3 linked regions of the Homo sapiens genome follow. The protein of the gene in region 2 purifies or fractionates together with the protein of the main gene of each other region. This does not show direct contact. Each region holds a gene or a part of one and is shown on either strand. Other genes may lie near its edges.

Region 1 (4,871 bases), on a different chromosome or scaffold from region 2:
GACATTTCAAAATGGGTCACATTCAACTCTATTTTCAGGAGGAGGCAAGTAAAAGAGGAATAAAGTGTCAAAGGGAGCAATTTTAGGGCATACAGAGCCCACGCAATTCCATATTGTGAGGAGGATGTTGACAATTAGTGGGAAGCAGTAAAGAAAAATGTTAAGACAAGAAAATCTGAACTTGATAACATCCATCTGCTGCACTTACAGCTGGAATCTGAGTGGGAATTTCCCATCTGTGCTTTATTCTCAGCTTTAATTTGACTATAAATAAGACACATGTGTGCACAATCTGCACCGAGTGTCTTTTGGGGCCAGGAATTGTTTAAGGATGATATACAGCCTACAAAATTATGTGTGTGTGTGTGTGTGTGTGTGTGTGTGTGTACACAGTGTGGATCTATACTTAGATCCACACTTTAACTTGGAATCCACTCATTAAGCTGGTCTGAGATGTGCAGCTAGTTTTTTATAACTTGGTCCCATGATGATCTGCCACTTTATAACTGAGGCCTTAACTCTTGACATCCTCTGCTCAAACACCTCTAACAGAATGCTGGTGCCTGGCCCAGCTTTTCCTGAAGCACCGCTGCTGTCAGCTGCAGGAAACCTCAGTGCCCAGGGCCCAGGGGGTGGCAGCATTTGGAAAGGCCATGGCAGGCCTGGTCTGAAGACAGCTAGCTACACTTGCTGCTTTATATTCTCATTGGATTCTCAAGTTGACTCTATGAGGACCCATATGGATTATCACCTCCATTTTACAGATAGGAAAACTGAGGCTTAGCAACATAAAGTAACTTGCCAATGGTCCTGTGGTCCATTAGCAGTGGAGCCAAATCTCAAAACCAAGTGTTTGAGCCAAGGATCAAAGTCCATGTTCTTCCCACTTTCCCTTCAGCCTCCACACTGCCCTTCCCAGGTCCTCTGGGGCTATAAATAGTGGGGGAGGCTGGGATTTCAAGCTTGAGGTCAGCCAGGCCTGCAGCACAAAAGACACAGCACCTCTAGGACTGGCCTAGCCTGGGCCCTCTCCCTCTGGCCTGGACAGAACTCAGGCTCACACAGTCTCAGCTTCTCACTAGCTTCTCCCTCCTTGGTTATACTTAGCTCTGGACATCAGAGAGAAAGGCATGTGCCAGCCCGAATCACTGCACACCCCCAGGCCTGGCCAGGCTGCTGTGGTAGAGAATGGCATTGCAGCCTTTTCAGATGTTGGTGTGAGCCACTTCCAACAAGGGCTGTTTTCTGTTCTGTTTCTGTTTTTTTGTTTTTTTTTTTTAAATACAGACAGGGTCTTGCTATGTTGTCTAGCTGGTCTTGAACTCCTGGGCTCAAGTGATCATCCTGCCTCAGCCTCCCAAAATGCTGGGATTAGAGGTATCAGCCACCACACCTGGTTGAACAGGGGCTGTTGGACCCTCCTTCCTGATAGTCTGTGAGATTTTATTTCCGTGTCTCCTTCTGTTCCTCCTTGAGGGAGGAACCATGTCTGGTTCACCAATGTATTTGTCATGTTCAGCAGCGTCTATAACACCCTGTGTGTGGCAGCTGTTTAATAGTTCCTTGTTGTTGGGTGGGGACAGAAAGAAAATAACAATGCTAATTCGTTGTTGAATGAATGAATAAATAAATAATCTAGGTTCATGTCCTAAAAATCTGGACATCAAGAAAAGAGGGCTGGGCATGGTGGCTCACACCTGTAATCCCAGCACTTTGGGAGGCCAAGATGGGTGGATCACCTGAGGTCAGGTGTTCGACAGCAGCCTGGCCAACATGGAGAAACCCCATCTCTACTAAAAAAATACAAAAATTAGCTGGGTATGGTGGTGTGTGCCTGTAATCCTAGCTACTTGGGAGGCTGAGGCAAGAGAATCTTTTGAACCCAGGAGGCAGAGGCTGCAGTGAGCCAAGATTGCGCCATTGCACTCCTGCCTGGATGATAGAGCAAGTCTCCATCTCAAAAAAAAAGAAAAAAGAAAAGAGGAACACACATTCCCAGAGGGCTATCTTACAAAATCAAATACATTTTATTCTATTAAATAAAATCAAGTTTATTCAAGGAATGACCAGGAGTTTTCATCACCTTTCTTCCTACCTCTTCTCTCTTCCCTCCACCAGATCTGGCATTTAAGGGCACGATGGGAGCGGGAGACAGGAGGGGCATCCGGTCCTGGAGGCTGGACTTTAAGTGCTCCACGCAGCAGCGGCCTCCCATAGTGCACAATGGTGGAAGGAGGCGGTTCGTATGTCCCCAGGGCGGCATCCCAATGCCAGACCTTCCTCCCATGGCTCTGTTCACCCTTTACAAGCCAGCTACTTGCAGAAAAGTGGGGCACTGTGTTCCATCCAACCTGCAGGCAACTGGTGCAAACGGAGGGGTGTGTGGCTCAGCTTAGCAGCCTAGAGCTCAGGAACCAGGACAGATCCTGAAACAGGAGCTGAAAGGGCCAGAACTGGCACCTTTGGGATCTCACAAAAATGGAAAGAGCCGCTTTTTCACAATATAGAGGACCGTAGCAAGAAACAGGGCTAGCGCAAGGAAGATGAGAAGCTTGTCCGTCAGCTCCCGGCGATTGTATTTTGTGATAAGCTTCCGGCCCAGCTGGATGGTGCCCGACATGGACTTAAATTCTTCATTTGCATCCAGGATCGTTCGTGAAGAAGTGACTGAAACAAAAGAGGAAGGAGGCCCAACTCAGAGACTGCAGCTCAAGATCCAAAGACCTCACTCTGCTGGCTGGGGTGCTGATAAAAACCAGCATTCTCAAGTGAGTTCCTCTGAGCTGGAATCAAAGCATGTGGAGACCAGCCAAGGAGCTGACAAGGAAAGGCTCCTCCCCAGGTCCCATCAGCTCCAGAGAGTGAGGGGGGGTTTGTCTGGGAGTCCTTGAACATGAGCGTCACCAGGGAGAAGGGCAGAAGAGGCTTGCTCACCCAGCCACCTCCTCAGCTCTCTGAAGCAGATGGACGCTGCTCAGGGAAACCACCAGCCACAAAATCAACCCAGGGATCGTGGGCAGGCACTGTGAGGTCTGTGTTGGGGCAGCAGCCAAATGCACCAGAACCTTCCACCTATGAGGTGCGGCCTCCAGGACATCTGCTGGCCAGACCGGCACTTTGCAGGATCTCAAAAGGGCAAGGGTGTCCCGGGCTCTGCCGTAAGCCCTCACACATACCAGTCCCTCAGGCCAGGGATACTGGCTGTAGCTTTAAGGAGGTGACACCTAAGAAGAGGCCCACGTCCCTTAAGGAATCACTGTCCCCAGAGTCAGATGTATTTCTGAATATGGGTATCTGGGCCTGACGCTGAGGGTAGAAGGTGTACCTGGCGAGGTTCTCCCACAAAACATAGCAAGGCATCATCAGAACAGCCATTGAATAGAACACATTAAGTGAAAAGGGAAAGTATAAAGGAACGCCTGTGAAATGTTTCCATTTAGGTAAGAAACAGGGAGATAAATGGTATTTCATTTGCTTAAGTTACAAAAGCTTGGAGGATCACAAGATATTTTTTAAGACACTGGTTACAGAGGTTGCCTCTGGGAAGTGGACCAGAGGGCTGGCAGGTAGGGGTCAGCTGGAGGTCAGAACAGAGAGTGATCTTTTTTGTGTCCCTTTTGTACTCTCCAGAGCTGTGCTGACCAATATGGCAGCCCCTAGACATGCGAGGCTGCTGTGCATAGAAAAACGTGGCTAATGCAAATGGAGATGTCAGGAGATGTAAGTGTCAAACCCACACAATGTTTCTTTTCTTTTTTTTTTTGAGATGCAGTCTCACTCTGTCACCCAGGCTGGAGTGCAGTGGCGTGATCTTGGCTCATCACAACCTCCACCTCCCAGGTTCAAATGATTCTCCTGCCTCAGCCTCCCCAGTAGCTGGGACTACAGGCATGCACCACCACGCCCAGCTAATTTTCTTTTTGTATTTTTAGTAGAGACAGGGTTTCAACATGTTGGTCAGGCTGGTCTCGAACTCCTGACCTCAAGTGATCTGCCCGCCTTGGCCTCCCAAAGTGCTGGGATTACCGGCATGAGCCACCGCGCCTGGCCAAAATCCACACGATGTTTCAAAGACTTAATCTAAGAAAAAGGAATGTAAAATATCTCAATAGTTTTTAATATTAGTTTTACATTGAAATTATAATATTTTACATAATGGGTTAAATAAACATCTTACTAAAATTAATTTCTTATGTTTCTTTTTACTTTTTAACATGTGCCTACTGGAAAATTTAAAGTTACATACGTGGCTGCTGTTGCGTTTCTATGGCAGTCCTGGGCTAGAGTTTTCTTATCCTTCTCTATGCTGTATGTGTTACCTTTTTAAAAATTAAAAGCTAATAAGTAAATAGGATAAATTATCAGAGGAAACACAGCAGCGTTTTGAAAATGACAGATAAAAGGAGAAAAACAAACACTCACAGAACAGGAATCCCTCTCCGCCTGCTTTCTCCACGCCTGCCTGCTGCGATTTCAAAACCCTGAGATCTTGCTAAGTAAAAATCTAATAGGCCTTTCTTTTTAAACTTTATTATTACGGAGAATTTTGAACCATCACAGAGCAGACAGCATAATATCATGAAATGCCATGTGTCCACCACCCATAACCAAGAACCACCAACCTCTGAAATCCTGCTCCCCCTCCCCCCAACTGCAACTACTCCTGCAATTGTGGAGCAAATTCCAGACACCATATTCCTAATAAGCTTTTTGTTTTAAAATTATGGTCCTAGTAGGCTTTTAAATCAAGCTGAATTTGTGAGGCATAAGGAAAGGGTTAAGAACTGTATTCTTCTCTTTTCTTCAATAGTTATCGCTTGTACAAAATGGGCCCCAAGAACACCGGGACCCTCTCAACACCCCAGAAGCCA
Region 2 (10,650 bases):
GGGCGGTAACTGAGTCACTTCCTCCCGTGGGCCTTCTCTGTAGGTGCGTGGAGATGCTGATCAAGGAGCAGATGAGGAAATACAAAGTGAAGATGGAGGAGATCAGCCAACTGGAGGCTGCAGAGAGTATCGCCTTCCGCAGGCTTTCGCTCCTGCGACAAAATGCTGTGAGTACCGGTGATCGTGGGGGCGGGACCTCTTTGGTGGGGCGGAGCCTGGTGCTGGGCAGGGCCTTGGGCGTGGCTTTGTTGCTGGGAAGGCTGGTGAGTGGGGTCTTGGTGGGCGGGGCCTTGGGTGGGCAGGACCTCCCATGCCGAGGATGGGACCGGGTAGTGGGTGTGGTCTCGGGTAGCAGGGCGGGGCCTCCCTTCCCAGTTCCCCGCCCACTCCTACCACACCCTTGGCCACAACCAGCCTGGCTGGGGCCACCAGGCCCTGCAGGTAGGGGCAGACTTACTGCCTTGAACGAAAGACGATGGTCCTCGCTCAGCCTCACTCCAATTATGTTCCTCTAGGTGGGGCAGGTAGGGGGACCAGCTTCCTGCTTGCTGGTGGTTCAGGTCATGCGTCCAGCCTTGTCCCTTCTGACCTGGGCCCTACCCACGGGGAAATGTTCCCATAGCAGAAGAATCAGCCCCACAGTGCAGGGGTGTGTTAGTGGGGAACGGGCTCTGGGCTCCTGTGGGAACCAGGGACCCCCTATCTTGGTACCGGTCATTGGATGTATCCCCAGCTCATGCCTGTGTCTGTCTTGGCCCGTGTGGTCACCCTGTGTTCATCTCTCTCCCAGCCATGGCCTCTCAAACTGGGGTTTTCGTCTCCCTATGAGGGGGTCCTGGTATGTACGCGTTCGGTGGGCCCGCGGTGCATGTCTCCCGGTGCAGTGCATGCTGGGGTTCCCTGGGGCCCTGGGCCCCTCGTAGGATAGACAGAGCCTGTCCTAACCTTCCGGAAGTGCATGCTGGGGAGGCCCCTTGCCTGCTGACCTTCTGTGCTCAGGACGACTAATCGGCCACATGACCACCACTCTGTCCCATGGGATTCCTAGAGAAGTCTCACTAAGAGCCCAGCACACTCACATCACAACTAACCTCCTGGGATCTGCTCACACCTCCGGCAGTAACCTCGCCCACTCAGAGATGTCAGTGGGACCCCTTGCTTCTTTGTTTCAGAACAAGAGCCCCAAGACCCGGGACATCCAGGAGGAGGAGCTGGAGGTGCTGCTGGAGGAGGAGGCAGCCGGCGGCGATGAGGACCGGGAAAAGGAGATTCTCATTGAACGGATCCAGTCCATCAAGGAGGAGAAGCAAGTGGCTCAGTCCCCTCCCTCAGTCCTTCATGTTTAGGGCAAGCTGGAGTGCAGGTTCCATCCCTGGTGGTCCGCTTGACCTCGCCAGGTTTGGTCCTGTCATCCCTAACACTGGGCAAACAACACTTTTTTTTTTTTTTTTTTTTTTTTTGAGACGGCGTCTCGCTCTGTCGCCCAGCTGGAGTGCAGTGGTGCTATCTCGGCTCACTGCAACCTCCATCTCCCGGGTTCAAGCGATTCTCTGCCTCAGCCTCCGAGTAGCTGGGATTACAGGTGCCCACCACCATGCCCTGCTAATTTTGTGTTTTTAATAGAGACAGGGTTTCACCACATTGGCCAGGCTGGTCTTGAACTCCTGACCTCAAGTGATCCACCCACCTTGGCCTCCCAAAGTGTTGGGATTACAGGCGTGAGCCACCGCACTCGGCCTTTATTTCTGAGACAGGGTCTTTCTCTGTCACCCAGGCTGGATTGCAGTGGTGCGATCACGGTTCACTGCAGCCACAATCCCCTAGGCTCACGGGGTCCTCCCACCTCAGCCTCCCCAGTAGCCGGAACCACAGGTGGTGCACACCACCACGCCTGGCTAATTTTTTTTACTTTTTGCAGAACAGGGTCCGCCTATGTTGCCCAGGCTGGGTTCAAACTCCTGGGCTCAAGCAATCCTCCTGCTTGGGGTGGGGGGAGGTTGGGGACACAGAGTTACATCTAGGAGCAGGACAGCCTGCTCTGTTCCACACTGGCCCAGCACTTCCGGTGGGGTGGCCTTGGACACCACTACCCTTTTTCCTCCAGGGAGGACATCACCTACCGGCTGCCGGAGCTGGACCCAAGGGGCTCGGACGAGGAGAACCTGGACTCGGAGACGTCGGCCAGCACCGAGAGCCTGCTGGAGGAGCGGGCCGGGCGGGGGGCCTCGGAAGGTCAGTATTAAGGTAGCGTCTGCTTTTCTCCTTCCCGTCCATCCCAGCAGGCCCCAGGGCGAGGGTCCTCCGGCTGCCGGCCCTGAAGCTGCAGTAACCCTGCCATCTGTCTCTCAAAAGGGCCCCCTGCGCCTGCTCTCCCTTGCCCCGGCGCGCCCACCCCGAGCCCCCTCCCCACCGTGGCCGCCCCTCCACGACGAAGGCCGTCGTCCTTCGTAACGGTCAGAGTGAAGACCCCCCGGCGGACCCCCATCATGCCCACGGCCAACATCAAGCTCCCACCAGGCCTGCCCTCCCACCTGCCTCGCTGGGCACCGGGTGCCCGGGAGGCGGCTGCCCCAGTGCGGCGCCGGGAGCCACCTGCCCGCCGCCCGGACCAGATACATTCCGTGTACATCACGCCCGGGGCAGACCTGCCAGTGCAGGGCGCCCTGGAGCCCCTAGAAGAGGATGGCCAGCCACCTGGGGCCAAGCGGAGGTACTCGGATCCCCCAACGTACTGCCTGCCCCCCGCCTCGGGCCAGACCAATGGCTGAGAGCCACAGCTGACAAAGTCTGCATGTCCGAGGACGGCCCCTGCACTGGAGCTGGGCGCCAGAGCTGCAGAGCTAGTGTTCGGCCCTCAGAGAAGGATCCAGAATCAAAAGCTCAAGAGTGACGTGAGGTGGGCACCGGCCCCAAGTGCAGAGTCAAGGCAGGGAGAGGCCGGCTGGAGCCAGGCCCCCTCGCACGCAGCCCCCAAATCATGGACGCACCTGTGGGGAGCACCACATCTCCACCTGCGGCCTCACATCTCCCCACTCCCCTTTTTGTACGTTTAACTGTTTCTTTGTACGTGGTTTACGTAACTTTAAACTGTAACAGCCTTAATGGAAGACCAAATGGTTTTTTATATGTGTATGTACAAAGTTTTCTATTAACGCTGCCCGTCTCCCTTATAACCTGGACGTGAGCTGTCAGAGCAGAAGCCACTAGGCCACTGCGCGTCTGAGGCTCAGACCCTGCTGTGGTTGGCTTGGGGTGGCCAATGGGCTGGGACCCTCCATGAGAGTTTTGGACACTTGGGTCACCTGACCCGTGCCTCTCTGACACATGTCTCCGGGGGGCAGCCACCTGGCCAATGTGCATTTTTGCACATGCTGGAACCTTCCATGGGGGTCTGGGCTATTGGCTGGAGCCAGGACATGAGTCAGGGGCACCATGGACCTCACGTGCCAGGGAGACTTGAATGTGGCTGTCACTCTTCCGGACGCCAAGGGCTGCAGGAGGCTGCTTTTGGCACTACCCACCCCGTGTGACAGAATAGGAGCCAGCGACTCAGGACTGCTCACGGGTCAGGAGGGCAACGCCTGAAGTCAGACCTCCCTATAGGTCAACAGGGACAACCTGGGGATCTCTGGAGCAGGGCCCTCCTCTCTCAGGCTTGGCCCACTCCCCCAGACACCTGGACACGTGGCCACAAATCTGGGACAAGGGGCCCCCGCACAGCATGAAATAAAAAGTGCCTGAGAAGTGTGTGCATGGGACGCCTGCTCATATGGGATCGGGCTTGGAAGAACAGGGCCGGTGGGTGGGGGTCTGCCCTGTGGCCTCAGCCAAGAAGGGTGCAGAATATGGGTGGAACACTGTCCTCAAAGTTCTGTCTTGATCCTCCACCAAACAGGGAGCTCCCAGCAGAGCCTCACTTGGCCAGGAGCGCCTGCTGTCCTGGCAGCCCTCTCTGGCCTCCCTGATTCAGTGCCCAGCCTCTGGAGCCTAAATGTCAGCTGCAGCAGCCACCCATCCAGCAGAGGTGGCCAGTTCCTGGTGGGCCCAGCAGGACAGGAACAGATGGGCTCCCAGGCTGCCATCGGATGGGAGTCGTGGGAACTGGCTGGCTGGTATTGGTTGGGGCACCGTGAAGAACCCAAGTTCAGACAGCACATGCCAGAGGTTGAGGGGCTTCTCCAAGGCCACACAGTTGGGAGGGGCATGGCTGGGATTTAGACTCTGCCCTGCCAGCCTCTAGAGGCCCCTTTGATGGGCCCTGGGTTTGGTCTCCATTGTTTGTTGTGGGTTTTTTTCTTGAAACACGGTCTCGCTCTGTCACCCAGGCTGGAGTGCAGTGGCGCGATCTCGGCCCACTGCAGCCTCCACCTCTCGGGTTCAAGCGATTCTCCTGCCTCAGCCTCCCGAGTAGCTGGGATTACAGGCACGCACAACCAAGCCCAGCTAATTTTTGTGTTTTTTGATAGAGACAGGGTTTCACCATGTTGGCCAGGCTGCTCTCCAAACTCCTGACCTCCAGTGATCCATCCACCTCACCCTCCCAAAGTGCTGGGATTACAGGCGTGAGCCACCGCACCTGGCCCTCCATGGTATTTTCTTTTTTTTTTTTTTTTTTTGAGACGGAGTCTTGCTTTGTTGCCCAAGCTGGAGTGCAGTGGCACAATCTCGGCTCACTGCAACATCCACCTCCTGGGTTCAAGCGATTCTCCTGCCTCAGTCTCCCAAGTAGCTGGGATTACAGGCACCCACCATCACGCCCGGCTAATTTTTGTATTTTTAGTAGAGACGGGGTTTCACCATGTTGGCCAGGCTGGTCTCAAACTCCTGACCTCAGGTGATCCATCTGCCTCAGCCTCCCTAAGTGCTGGGATTACAGGTGTGAGCCACCGCACCTACCCGTCTATGATATTTTTCAAGGACATCAGGCCCACTGGTGTAACCAAGGTGCAGATGACCTAAGGTGTGGGAAAACATGAAGGCTGCATGCCAGGCCCTGGTTCCTGTGAAGCCCCCACCCTCATCCTGTCACTCCAGAAGAGAGGCACTGCAAGGCATAGGGGTACTCAGCTTCCAGGTACTGAGGTGGGCTGGGAAGGGGTTCTCCATGGGGGTCTGGGCGTTAGGGGGGACCCAGCCCCACCTTGCTCACTCTCAGGCAGAGCTGTCTCATGTGCCCCTTGAGGCAGGTACTGTCACACTGTCCATTTCCCGGGGGAAGAAGCGGATCCAGAAAAGTTAAACTCTCCCAGGGCCGAGGATGGAATCAGAGCTGGAGCTGTGACCTGGAAACCCATAACCACAATACAGATGAGCCCTGCTGAGGTGGGGGAAGCCTTGGATTCCTGAATCCCAGGCTACAGAAATCGGGAAGGGTGTGTGGACGTGAAATAGCTCCGACTGGGAAGAATCCAGGTAGGAGTGGGGTGCGGGGAGGTACTTTGAGCAGGCAAAACAGAACAAAAGGGCACACTGCACGCGGGTCTGACACCAGAAGACCCCGGTCGTCCTATCATTCCCGAAGGGTTAACATGCTCTCGAGGAAAAGCAAGTGATTCGCCTAAGTAAGAATGGGGTGGCGCCTCTCCTATTTTTTTAAAATAGAGATAGAGTAGCGCTATCTTGCCCGGGCTGGCCTCAAGCAATCCTTTCCCACCTCTGCCTCCTAAAATGCTGGCATTACAGCCCTGAGCCACCGCGCCCGGCCCAGCGCCCCGTCTCAAAACAAGATATTACTTCCGCTCCAAACAAAGATGGGCCAGCTAACGAGCGCGGGGGAAACATCCGCCCGGAAGGCCACTTGAAGGCACTTCCGCCCTCTCTTAACATGGAGCCGGCGGAAGGGGTGGTGTAGGGCCGGGCGATAATGGCGGCGTCGAGGCTGGAGCTAAACCTGGTGCGGCTGCTATCCCGCTGCGAGGCGATGGCAGCGGAGAAACGGGACCCGGACGAGTGGCGCCTGGAGAAGGTGAGGGGATCTCGCACTGCCGCGTAGAGCCCGACTCCCGGGGGGTGATTCCTAGGGTTGGAAGCCACCTGGCCCGACTCCCCGGCCCCAGTAGCCTCTCGGGCAGCGCCCTTTCCGGTCAGTCCCGCCACGTCCACCTGTAGCTTCCGCCCCCGTCCCTGGGACTCCGCCCCTCCCCCACTGGCCCCGCCTCCTTTACGCTTGACCCCTCCCATTTGTCGGCCCCGCCCCCCCGACTCCCATGATCAGGACATGGGAAAGACCCCCGGGTGACAATCCACTTTTCCTCCCCAGTACGTGGGAGCCCTAGAGGACATGTTGCAGGCCCTGAAGGTCCACGCGAGGTGAGTGCAGGCAGCCTCAGGGCTTTCACATCAGCACGTGGCTGTGCTACTGGACATCCCAGTACCGCTATCCCAGCTGGGACCCTTCCCTGAGCTGGGGACCATGGACAGGTTTTGTTTTTCTTCTTCCTGCCTTCCAGCAAACCGGCCTCTGAGGTGATCAATGAATATTCCTGGAAGGTGGATTTTCTGAAGGGGATGCTGCAAGCCGAGAAGCTGGTGAGAAGGGGTGCCCCTGCCCCCTCAGCCCCCATCACCGCTCACTTTGGTCCCCAGGACCTGCCCCTCCAGTGACTTATCTTCCCACATTTCTGCAGACCTCCTCCTCAGAGAAAGCACTGGCCAACCAGTTCCTGGCCCCTGGCCGTGTGCCAACCACAGCCAGAGAGCGAGTGCCCGCCACAAAGACGGTGCATCTGCAGTCACGGGCGCGGTACACCAGCGAGATGCGGAGTGAGCTACTAGGCACGGTAGGGCTCCTTCCCTGGTCCCTGGGAATCCCTTGGACAGGAATAGGGGTTCTATGCTTGTAGGCAGCCAGAACCACAATACTGTCAGATACAGGAACCCTAAGGGGGTCCAGCAATCTCTTCCCTGGGTCATCACACAAGGCTGCCCAACAGAGGGGCATTGTGGCTAAGGCTTTGCTAGATGAATAGGAATTTGGTACAAGGCAAAAATGGAATGTGTCTGGTTAAGCCCCAGAGTTGGCCCAAGAGCAGGGTTTGAGTCCTGGCTTGCAACTTACAAGACACATAAGTTTCTTCAGCCGTAAAAGAGGATGACAAGTTCCTTTCTGAGCACTTTATGTGGATCAGCTCAATCTTTTAAAATATGAGTTGTTGTGGCCAGGTGCGGCAGCTCACGCCTGTAATCCCAGCACTTTGGGAGGCCGAGGCGGGCGGATCATTTGAGGTCAGGAGTTAAGACCAGCCTGACCAACATGGAGAAACCCCGTCTTTAGTAAAAATACAAAATTAGCTGGGCATGGTGGCTCACGCCTGTAATCCCAGCTACTCGGGAGGCTGAGGCAGGAGAATCGCTTGAACCCAGGAGGCAGAGGTTGCGGTGAGCTGAGATCAAGCCATTGCACTCCAGCCTGGGCAATAAGAGTGAAACTCCGTCTCAAAAAAAAAAAATATGAGTTGTCGTTACCAGTTTAAGGTTGAGGAAACAGGCTCAGAGGTCATGGGATTTCCCCATGTCCTGACTGAAGGTGAGGAGGTTGAGGTCAGAAGGGACAGGTTTGGGAACAAGACAAGGGGGGTGACTTCATGGCATTTACTTTTTTTTTTTTTTTTGCGATGGAGATTCGCTCTTGTTGCCCAGGCTAGAGTGTGGTGGCGCGATCTCGGCTCACTGCAACCTCCGCCTCCCAGGTTCAAGCAATACTCCTGCCTCAGCCTCCCAAGTCACTAGGATCACAGGCACCCCCACCACACCTGGCTAACTTTTTGTATTTTTAGTAGAGATGGAATTTCATTATGTTGGCCAGGCTGGTCTCGAACTTCTGACCTCAGGTGATCTGCCCACCTTGGCCTCCCAAAGTGCTGGGAGTGAGCCACTGCACCCAGCCTCATGCCACTTACTTCTTTCCACAGGACTCTGCAGGTGAGTCACCATGAACACAACAGGACTTGAGGGCCAGCTGACTAGGACAAGACATGTATCCTTGCTGCCCCGGGGCCTCCATGCCGAGACTCCATGCCCTGACTCCAACAGGAGCATCACCAAACTACACCTGGAGGAAGAGCCAGGACAGAGGAAATGGCCCCGAGAGGAAACAAAGCTAGGCACAGTGGCTCACACCTGTAATTTCGGAGGCTGAGGCAGGTGGATCACCTGAGGTCAGGAGTTTGAGACCAACCTGGCCAACATGACAAAACCATGTCTCTACTAAAAATACAAAACTTAGCCGGATGCAGTGCCACGTGTCTGTAGTCCCAGCTACTCGGGAGGCTGAGGCAGGAGAATTGCTTGAACCCAGGAGGTGGAGGTTGCAATGAGCTGAGATCACACCACTGCACTCCAGCCGGGGCGACAGAGCAAGACTCCGTCTCAAAAAAAAAAAAAGCAAAAAAATTAGCCAGGCGTGGTGACGCACACCTGTAGTCCCAGCATACTTGGGAGGCTGAGGCAGGAGGATTGCTTGAGCCTGGGAGGTAGAGGTTGCAGTGAGCTGAGATTGCGCCAGTGCACTCCAGCCTAGTTGACAGAGAGAGACTCTGTCTCAAAAATAAGCAAATAAATAAATTTTTTAAAGCTAGGCACTCCCAGCCTATGGGACCAAGGCTAGGCTGGAGGGAGGGACCTGGGGTCTGAGGGAACCGAGACAGGAGTAAGGAGACCCTCCTAGAAGAGGGGGTATTCAAGCATGGTCAGAAGCCAACGGGGCAGCAGACAAGATGAGGAAACAGCATTCCAAGCAGTAGACCCAGCACAGGCAATGCTCAGGATGCCGGAAACGGGAAACCAACACTCGCCTTTTTTGCTTGGCCTGTTTTGCTTTCAGAGCCTGAGATGGACGTAAGGAAGAGAACGTGAGTGTCTGCGGCCCTGGGGCAGTAGTGGCAATTGGGCGGTGCGGCAGGGACGGGGTAGCAGTGGCCAAACCCTGGACCACCGAGGCACTACCACAAGGATCTAAACCAACCAGAAGCCACTTCTGTGGATGCTCTTCCCAGAAGTCAAAGGCCAGGCGCAGTGGCTCACGCCTGTAATCCCAATACTTTGGGAGGCTGAGGCAGGCAGATCACCTGAGGCCAGGAGTTCAAGACCAGTCTGGCCAACATGGCAAAACCCTGTCTCTACTAAAAATACAAAAAATTAGCCGGGCATGGTGGCATGCGCCTGTAGTCCCAGCTACTCAGGAGGCTGAGGCAGGAGAACTGCTTGAACCTGGGAGGTGGAGGTTACAGTGAGCCGAGATCACGCCATTGCACTCCAGCCTGGGTGACAGAGCGAGATGCTGTCTCAAAAAAAAAAAAAAAAAAAAGGTCGGGCGCGGTGGCTCACGCCTGTAATCCCAGCACTTTGGGAGGCCGAGGCAGGTGGATCACGAGGTCAGGGGTTCGAGACCACCCTGACCAACATGGTGAAACCCTGTCTCTACTAAAAATACAAAAATTAGCTGTGCATGGTGGCAGGTGCCTGTAATCCCAGCTACTCAGGAGACTGAGGCAGGAGAATTGCTTGAACCTGGGAGGCAGAGGTTGCAGTGAGCCGAGATCATGCCACTGCACTCCAGCCTGGGCAACAGAACGAGACTCTGTATCAAAAAAAAAAAAAAAGAAAATGTGTTGGTCTTCTCCCCTTTCCCACTCCATCTCTCATGTCCTCCTCCCCCCGTGTGTGAAATCAGTGGAGTGGCAGGGTCCCAGCCAGTGAGTGAGAAGCAGTTGGCAGCTGAGCTAGACCTCGTCCTGCAGCGACATCAGAACCTCCAGGAAAAGCTGGCGGAAGAGATGCTAGGACTGGCCCGGAGCCTCAAGACCAATACCCTGGCCGCCCAGAGTGTCATCAAGAAGGACAACCAGGTGTGGGGACTGGGGGAGCTCTCCAGCCTCTGCCCTGGGGCATCAGAGAAGGCTTCCCAGCACAGGAGCATTGTGGCTGGGGCTTTGCGGGATGAATAGGAGTTTCGTAGAAGGCAAAAATGGCATTCCCAGCAGAGGGCACAGCACCAGCAAGCGACAAGAGGTGCAGGCCAGTCCCAGGGAAGTAGAGAGAGGCCATTCTTGGCCCCAGTCCTGTTGACACCTTTTCCACCTCCCCCACAGACCCTGTCACACTCACTGAAAATGGCGGACCAGAACCTGGAGAAACTGAAGACGGAGTCAGAGCGTCTGGAGCAGCACACGCAGAAGTCAGTCAACTGGCTGCTCTGGGCCATGCTCATTATCGTCTGCTTCATCTTCATTAGCATGATCCTCTTCATTCGAATCATGCCTAAACTCAAATAAAGACCCCCGCCCACCTTGTCTGTCTTCCGTCTGTCCCCTGCCCCCATCTAGCAGTGCCTTTCAGGCTGGCCAATGAGATGGGAGGGTTTTTGGAGGTCCCTGAAGAGCCACAGACAGACAGTGCATGAGCAGGGGAAGAACCACCTCAGGGCCAGATGCGGGGGCTCACGCCTGGAATCCCAGCACTTTGGGAGTCCAAGGCAGGTGGATCACTTGAGGCCAGGAGTTCAAGACCAGCCTGGCCAACATGGTGAAACCCCGTCTCTACCAAAAAATACAAAAATCAGGCAGGCATGGTGGCGCACGCCTGTAGTCCCAGCTACTTGGGAGGCTTAGGCACGAGAATCACTTGAACCCAGGAGGTGGAGGTTGCAGTGAG
Region 3 (7,546 bases), on a different chromosome or scaffold from region 2:
GGTCTTGCTGTTTCCCAGGCTGGAGTGCTGGGACCACAGGCACGTGCCACCAAGCCCGGGTAATTTTATTTTTTGTAGGCGTGGGGGGCTCCCTTTGTTGCCCAGTCTGGTTGACCTTCCCATTATTCATCTATTTTATTTTCCTTTGCTTCCATTATCTCTTTGTGTTACATTGCAGATAATTTCTTTTGCTCCATCTTCTGGTTCAGATTTTCTTCTTAGTCACATTTCATCTGTTGCTAAACTATCCACTGAGTTAAATTTTAGGTATTTTATTTTTAACTTCTAGTTTTTTTCAAATATGCTTTTATATTTTTCTATCCTTTAAGTATTTTCTAACATCTTTTATATCTGTACGCTCACTAAATCTTTCTCCAGTTAATGTTTTCTTTTTTTCTTTTTTTTTGAGACAGAGTTTTGCTCTTGCAGCCCAGGCTGGAGTGCAGTGGTGTGATCTTGGCTCATTGCAACCTCCATCTCCCAGGTTCAACAGATTCTCTTGTCTCAGCCTCCTGAGTAGCTGGGATTACAGGTGCCTGCCACCACGTCCAGCTAATTTTTGTATTTTTAGTGGAGACAGGATTTCACCATGTTGGCCAGGCTGGTCTCGAACTCCTGACCTCAGGCAATCTGCCCGCCTTGGCCTCCCAAAGTGCTGGGATTACAGGCATTAGCCACCGGGCCCGGCCCAGTGTTTTCTTTATAGAAAGGATCTTGAATTTTATACCTAAATTTCATCTTTTTTTCCTCTCTAGCCCTATGTCATAATTTATTGCTTGAAGAGAGAGATTTTTCATGTTTATGTGTGGAATATTTATATTTATGTCTCAAAGACTCAGTATAACAACATTTAAACAAATTAATGTGCAGGGAAAGTCCTGAAATTACATTTCAAATACTATTAGTACACTGTCAGGAGCAGTGTAAAAGTTTTGCAAGCTTGATGAACACTGAATAAAGTAAATGGGTGATGCACATTGCTGGCACTAAGAGAGGAAATATCGTATTTGGTGTGAGCTATTCTCTGCCATTTTGTGTTTGTCCTGAACACATTTCCACAGTGCTTTTTTTTAACAGCCAAGGTTAGTATTTGATTACATTTGCTATAACATTTTTTTCTAGGCTATAATTACTGGTGTCATCAAACTTTAGTACCCTGATTACTTGTGTCTGTATTAAGTTAAAAAAATATAATCTGGACCCTGACTAGAGATTCTTTCTTTCAGCTCATACCCCAGTGAGGTAGAGAGGCTTACTGTTTGGGGATTGTGTTCTTTCTAGGATCCTTTTTTAGGGATATGACTTTAACTAGCTGGCTGCATAGGATAAACGTTACTTATGTTACTTACAAAAACTGCTTGATGTATTCTCAGTCCTTCCATTCCACCACACACTTTTGTCTCAGGAATAAGTCAGTCAGATTAACAGACCCCTACCTATCTAGAATTATTTTTCTTGACCTGTGAATCTTGTATGTATTGTCAGTAACATTACAGATTCCTGTTGATATGAGGCTCATTAGGAGGGAAGGCTCCCTGGCCTTTATAATAGGAAGTGTTTATTTTTCTTCCCTTTCAAGCAATTGGCTTGCTTTTTATCTTACAGACGTACTGAACGGTATGACTGATCAATACTTCTTGTCAGTACTGCATACCAAAGAAGCTTGGAATCAAGTTTAACACTAACTTTTACGTATTATTTACAACTTTATGAGATGACTGTTTTGTATTTGTCCATTCCAAATCATGTTAGTGTTGCCTTGATCACCATTACATGAAGGAGGGACTTTATGTGATAAAATATACATAGGTGTGCCAGAAGAAGGGAACTTAAAGTGGCTTAAAATCTCCATCTAAAATCTATAGGCAACATGGATACCCAACAAACTATGAGAAAGTAGTTGTATAATTAAAATGCATACAAGTAGGGGACTCACGAACCAATCAAATAAAATTTAAATATGATAACCTTAAAATGTCACCAGCTTCAATCATAACCTATTAGTTATTATATTAGTACTTTCTGATTTATCAGAGAAAATGAACAATGTTGAAATTTTATTTCTGAAATGTTTCTTTTAATCAATACATATTAAGTATATAATTTCCTTAAAAATTAACAAATAACTCTGATTTTCACTGTTAGGACACTGTTACAGAGAAGGAAACATATTGCTCTTCTAACTTTTCTTCTTTTTACATTTATCCACATTCCAAGTAGATTATCATAGTAAGGTTCTTCTGTGTTACTTTTGTCCAAGTTGTGACAACTAAAACAAAACACAAAATCATACATAAAACTTTTAAAAAAGATCATAAAAGAAACATTCAAACATATTTGTAAACCCCTTAATAAATTACACTTCCTATTTTATTCACTGCATTCCTAGAATAATAAATCTTAATGTTCACCACTAACTCAAATGTTAAAACTGAAGGCTGGTCATGGTGGCTCATGCCTGTAATCCTAGCTATTTGGGAGGCTGAGGTGGGAGGATCACTTGAGGCCAGGAGTTTGAGACCAGCCTTGGCAACATAGCAAGAGACTGTCTCTACCAAGAAAAAGAAAAGAAAATGGAATTGCAATAAACGTCGTCATAGTAAAGAAATGTAAACATTATTAGGTAACGTTCAATTGATGGAAAAGAAAAACCCTGGGAATTAAAAAAATTAGTGCTAACTTTGTGACAATATAAAGAGAAATGTCATGAGTGACACACTACTGACAGTTCTCATATATTTTTGTATTTCTAAAGGATCATTAAAAGCCAAAGAAAAGGCTTTCAGTTCTGGAAGGATGGGCAAACTCCTACTGGAAACATTATTACTTATCAAGGTTTTCTTAGTCGTCCATGAAAACACCTTATCTTGGTATAGCTGGATGGCTTTGGTTTCGGCTGGTTCAGGTGAGTAAGTGGTTTTCTTTCTCTCTTTTGAAAAATACCAATAGCAACTAGGGGTATGTTAACAGAAACAAACAACAAATGTATACTTTACCTGTTTTATGAACTGTGTAGCATTAAAAAGCTCACTGCAGCCATATAAAATGTGTTTGCCTTGTTTCCCCTGTAAAAATCAGAGTCAGAACTTAGATACAAGTAACAAGAAATATATTCAATATTCCCAAGAAAAGAGATTAATATGCTAGTTTTTTTGTTATTCTTAACAGTCTTTCTTTGGGATACTGTTGGATTTTAGTATACACATCTACCTAAAATTGCATGAAATAAAGAGGAATAAAGTGGTGAAATGAGCATAGTATTTTTGTCCCCCAAAATATATACTATGGCATACTATTGGTGCCATTTCCTATTACACTAAAAATAGAAGGAATCTCACTGTCAAATTTCACAGGAGCAACAGTTACCTATAAAATCTTAGAACAACATTCTTCCAATGTAGGATGTGTACTACTTGAAGAATACATTCGAGTTTCTTTATGCTGAAAGTGGGCTATGGTGCAGGTGGCATGGATTGTGCTTTTAGTCTCACTTGAGCAACACAGTATTTATAAGTTAATACATCTCATTCCACATTGTCAACATCAGGAATAAAAGTCACAGTTACAATGTTGGAACCCAATCACAACAGCCAAAACTTCTCTATTAGCGATTTGCTAATTTCTTGTATGTATCGTGAACCTGAAGGTAAATTCATGAGATTTCTTTTGTAATATAAAAAAGTTTATTCTAGAACAAAGTAATTTGAGGATTCATCAAAGGACAGAGGAATGATGGCTTTGTAACACAACTCTGTGATGTATAAGCTGAGCAAATATTGTTGGCTGAATACATGTCCTAGATGGCCATCTCTGAGAATAAATAAAACAAAAGCCACAACTCATATTTTTTTCAAAATGAGATGGTATATGGGTCATATAATTGGGATTCTTGTGGCTAACAGGCATTAATTAAAGGTAGAGGTCACAGTATGCAAGGAGAAAGCAGGCACAGGGAAACATTAGAGGGGTCCAGAACTTCTAGGCATAGCTCCCAGGAGAACCTGATTCTTGTTCAAGGAGAGGTCTTTTATGCCTCTCTGGTCAGGTAGGCAAAATTGGGCTGCATGACCAGCATGACCAGGCTCAACTGCAGAAACCAAGGGAACATGACAGAAACCAGGTGAAAAATGTAAAATCAATCTTTACATTTTCTATTAAACAATGCTGGCAAGCCAGCCCAAGGTTGCCCCCTGGTTTATCGTAGTCTCTAGCCCAGGCCCAGAATTCATCACTAGTTAATACTTCATTCAGGTTTGGCTAAACATCAGCACCATGGATCCTGGTATTCTTGGAGATAAGCACAGGGGTACAGTAGCCCAGTTGAGATTAATCCTGACTTGTACAGTCCCCACCCTGGACCAAGCTTTCTTAACCAAATTACTCATCATCATTCTTTTCTAATCGTTTTTAGCCATCCAATGAAGTGTAGGTGTAATTTTAAAGAAACACTGTAGTTTACCAAACATTCCAGTGCAAACTTGTTCTTAATCATGTACAAGCTTGATGACCCCTTTACTTACTCTGTCAGTTAAAAATTGAACTTTATGGGCTGGGCGCAGTGGCTCATGCCTGTAATCTCAGCACTTTGGGAGGCCGAGGCAAGTGGATCACAAGGTCAGGAGTTCGAGACCAGCCTGGCCAGCATGGTGAAACCCCATCTCTACTAAAAATACAAAAATTAGCCAGGTGTGGTGGCGCATGCCTGTAATCCCAGCTACCCAGGAGGCTAAGGCAGGAGAACTGATTGATTGAACTCGGGAGGCAGAGGTTGCAGTGAGCCAAGACTGCGCCACTGCACTCCAGCCTGGGTGAGAGAATGAGACTCTGTCTCAAAAAAAAAAAAAGAAAAAAAAATCGAACTTTATAAAATGTACCAGTATATTGATTCAATGTAAAATTAACTCAGTGTAGTTCTTTCTCTAACCAATCACCTTCCATCAAGAGAATACCTTGTGGTTTTAAGTCAAGTTCCCAATTCATCAATATTAGTATTATCAAATGTTTTGATAAAATCAGTCAAATTATTTTTTACCAATTATACCAAAGTTATACCAAATAGCATTTACATTGTGAGTTAGATTAACAACATTACTAAATAAATCAGAATTACAGCAGTATTTTCTGGCACTTGCCCCTTATGTTGTGGACTAGTATAAACCAAGGGCCATGTTAGTTAATTCTGTATTGCCAGTCTCATGTAGGCATAGTCGCATGTTTAGTTTCATACTACGAGACTGTACTGACACAGGTTTCTAATGATGTGAGGAAGGCTGTCATAGACCTAGCTCAGTTCCTTCTTAATAGGGCTGAATGGTAGGGAAAAGATTAGGATTATTCAGGACAAAAAAACTAAAAGGGATTTAAAAATCCTCTCAGGACAATAAACTGGGGAGCTTAGTAGCTACTAAAAATTTAATGGATCTAAAGGGCATCTATGAATAATGTAATAAAATATATAATGGTCAAAGACTAGATGCTTTGCCCGTATGATGAGAAAGAAGACAAGGATGTCTGCTCTTGCCTCTTCTATTCAACAATGTACTGAAGGTTCTAGCCAGGGCAGTTGCAGAAGATAGAAAAGAAGCAAAACTATCTCTATTAATAGATAACATGATCTTGTATATAGAAACTTCTAAAAATCCATTAAAAACAATTGGAACTAATAAACTCAGCAAGGCTGTGAAACGTAAGATCAACATAAAAATCGGTTGGATTTTTATGCACTTGGAATGAGGAATCCAAAAATGAACTTAAGAAAATGCCTTTTGTCTTTGACAAAATTCAACAGCCCTTCATGCTAAAAACTCTCAATGAATTAGGTATTGATGGGACGTATCTCAAAATAATAAGAGCTATTTATGACAAGCCCACAGCCAATATCATACTGAATGGGCAAAAACTGGAAGCATTCCCTTTGAAAACTGGCACAAGACAGGGATGCCCTCTCTCACCTCTCCTATTCAACATAGTGTTGGAAGTTCTGGCCAGGGCAATCAGGCAGGAGAAAGAAATACAGGGTATTCAATTAGGAAAAGAGGAAGTCAAATTGTCCCTGTTTGCAGATGACATGATTGTATATCTAGAAAACCCCATTATCTCAGCCCAAAATCTCCTTAAGCAGATAAGCAACTTCAGCAAAGTCTCAGGATACAAAAATCAATGTGCAAAAATCACAAGCATTCCCAAACATCAATAATAGACAAACAGAGAGCCAAATCATGAGTGAACTCCCATTCACAATTGCTTCAAAGAGAATAAAATACCTAGGAATCCAACTTACAAGGGATGTGAAGGACCTCTTCAAGGAGAACTACAAACCACTGCTCAACGAAGTAAAAGAGGACACAAACAAATGGAAGAACATTCCATGCCCATGGATAGGAAGAATCAATTATCCTGAAAATGGCCATACTGCCCAAGGTAATTTATAGATTCAATGCCATCCCCATCAAGCTACCAATGACTTTCTTCACAGAATTGGAAAAAACTACTTTAAAGTTCATATGGAACCAAAAAAGAGCCTGCATTGCCAAGTCAATCCTAAGCAAAAAGAACAAAGCTGGAGGCATCACACTACCTGACTTCAAACTATACTACAAGGCTACAGTAACCAAAACAGCATGGTACTGGTACCAAAACAGAGATATAGACCAGTGGAACAGAACAGAGCCCTCAGATATAATACCACACATCTACAACCATCTGATCTTTGACAAACCTGACAAAAACAAGAAATGGGGAATGGGTTCCCTATTTAATAAATGGTGCTGGGAAAACTGGCTAGCCATATGTAGAAAGCTGAAACTGGATCCCTTCCTTACACCCTATACAAAAATTAATTCAAGATGGATTAAAGACTTAAATGTTAGACCTAAAACCATAAAAACCCTAGAAGAAAACCTAGGCAATACCATTCAGGACATAGACATGGGCAAGGACTTCATGTCTAAAACACCAAAAGCAATGGCAACAAAAGCCAAAATTGACAAATGGGATCTAACTAAACTAAGGAGCTTCTGCACAGCAAAAGAAACTACCATCAGAGTGAACAGGCAACCTAAAGAATGGGAGAAAATTTTTGCAATCTACTCATCTGACAAAGGGCTAATATCCAGAATCTACAAAGAACTCAACTTTACAAGAAAAAAGCAACCCCATCAAAAAGTGGGCGAAGGATATGAACAGATACTTCTAAAAAGAAGACATTTATGCAGCCAACAGACACATGAAAAAGTGCTCATCATCACTGGCCATCAGAGAAATGCAAATCAAAACCACAATGAGATACATCTCACACCAGTTAGAATGGCAATCATTAAAAAGTCAGGGAACAACAGGTGCTGGAGAGGATGTGGAGAAATAGGAACACTTTTACACTGTTGGTGGGACTGTAAACTAGTTCAACCATTGGGGAAGACAGTGTGGCGATTCCTCAAGGATGTAGAACTAGAAATACCATTTGACCCAGCCATCCCATTACTGGGTATATACCCAAAGGATTATAAATCATGCTGCTATAAAGACACATGCACAGGTATGTTTATTG

The links.
Region 1: the proteins of USE1 (region 2) and BNIP1 purify together in Homo sapiens (co-immunoprecipitation; 6 studies listed by BioGRID and IntAct, with this or other methods). This does not show direct contact.
Region 3: the proteins of USE1 (region 2) and SCFD1 purify together in Homo sapiens (affinity purification with mass spectrometry; 5 studies listed by BioGRID and IntAct, with this or other methods). This does not show direct contact.

What each region holds. Positions count from the first base shown.
Region 1 is NC_000005.10:173,161,521-173,166,391, reverse strand, and holds the end of BNIP1 (vesicle transport protein SEC20), read right to left. Parts: intron 4,320-4,871; coding exon of another isoform or gene 4,247-4,319; intron 4,081-4,246; coding exon of another isoform or gene 4,068-4,080; exon of another isoform or gene 4,032-4,067; intron 2,668-4,031; coding exon 2,471-2,667; 3' UTR 2,005-2,470; downstream 1-2,004. UniProt on the Homo sapiens protein: As part of a SNARE complex may be involved in endoplasmic reticulum membranes fusion and be required for the maintenance of endoplasmic reticulum organization. Also plays a role in apoptosis.
Region 2 is NC_000019.10:17,209,543-17,220,192, forward strand, and holds USE1 (vesicle transport protein USE1), read left to right. Parts: upstream 1-5,814; 5' UTR 5,815-5,863; coding exon 5,864-5,965; intron 5,966-6,259; coding exon 6,260-6,309; intron 6,310-6,449; coding exon 6,450-6,528; intron 6,529-6,626; coding exon 6,627-6,779; intron 6,780-7,910; coding exon 7,911-7,920; intron 7,921-8,821; coding exon 8,822-8,849; intron 8,850-9,670; coding exon 9,671-9,845; intron 9,846-10,088; coding exon 10,089-10,271; 3' UTR 10,272-10,287; downstream 10,288-10,650. Other genes in the region: MYO9B (unconventional myosin-IXb), read left to right, coding at 44-167, 791-838, 1,173-1,306, 2,105-2,232, 2,353-2,768.
Region 3 is NC_000014.9:30,730,309-30,737,854, reverse strand, and holds the end of SCFD1 (sec1 family domain-containing protein 1), read right to left. Parts: intron 3,066-7,546; coding exon 2,997-3,065; intron 2,270-2,996; coding exon 2,246-2,269; 3' UTR 2,005-2,245; downstream 1-2,004. UniProt on the Homo sapiens protein: Plays a role in SNARE-pin assembly and Golgi-to-ER retrograde transport via its interaction with COG4. Involved in vesicular transport between the endoplasmic reticulum and the Golgi.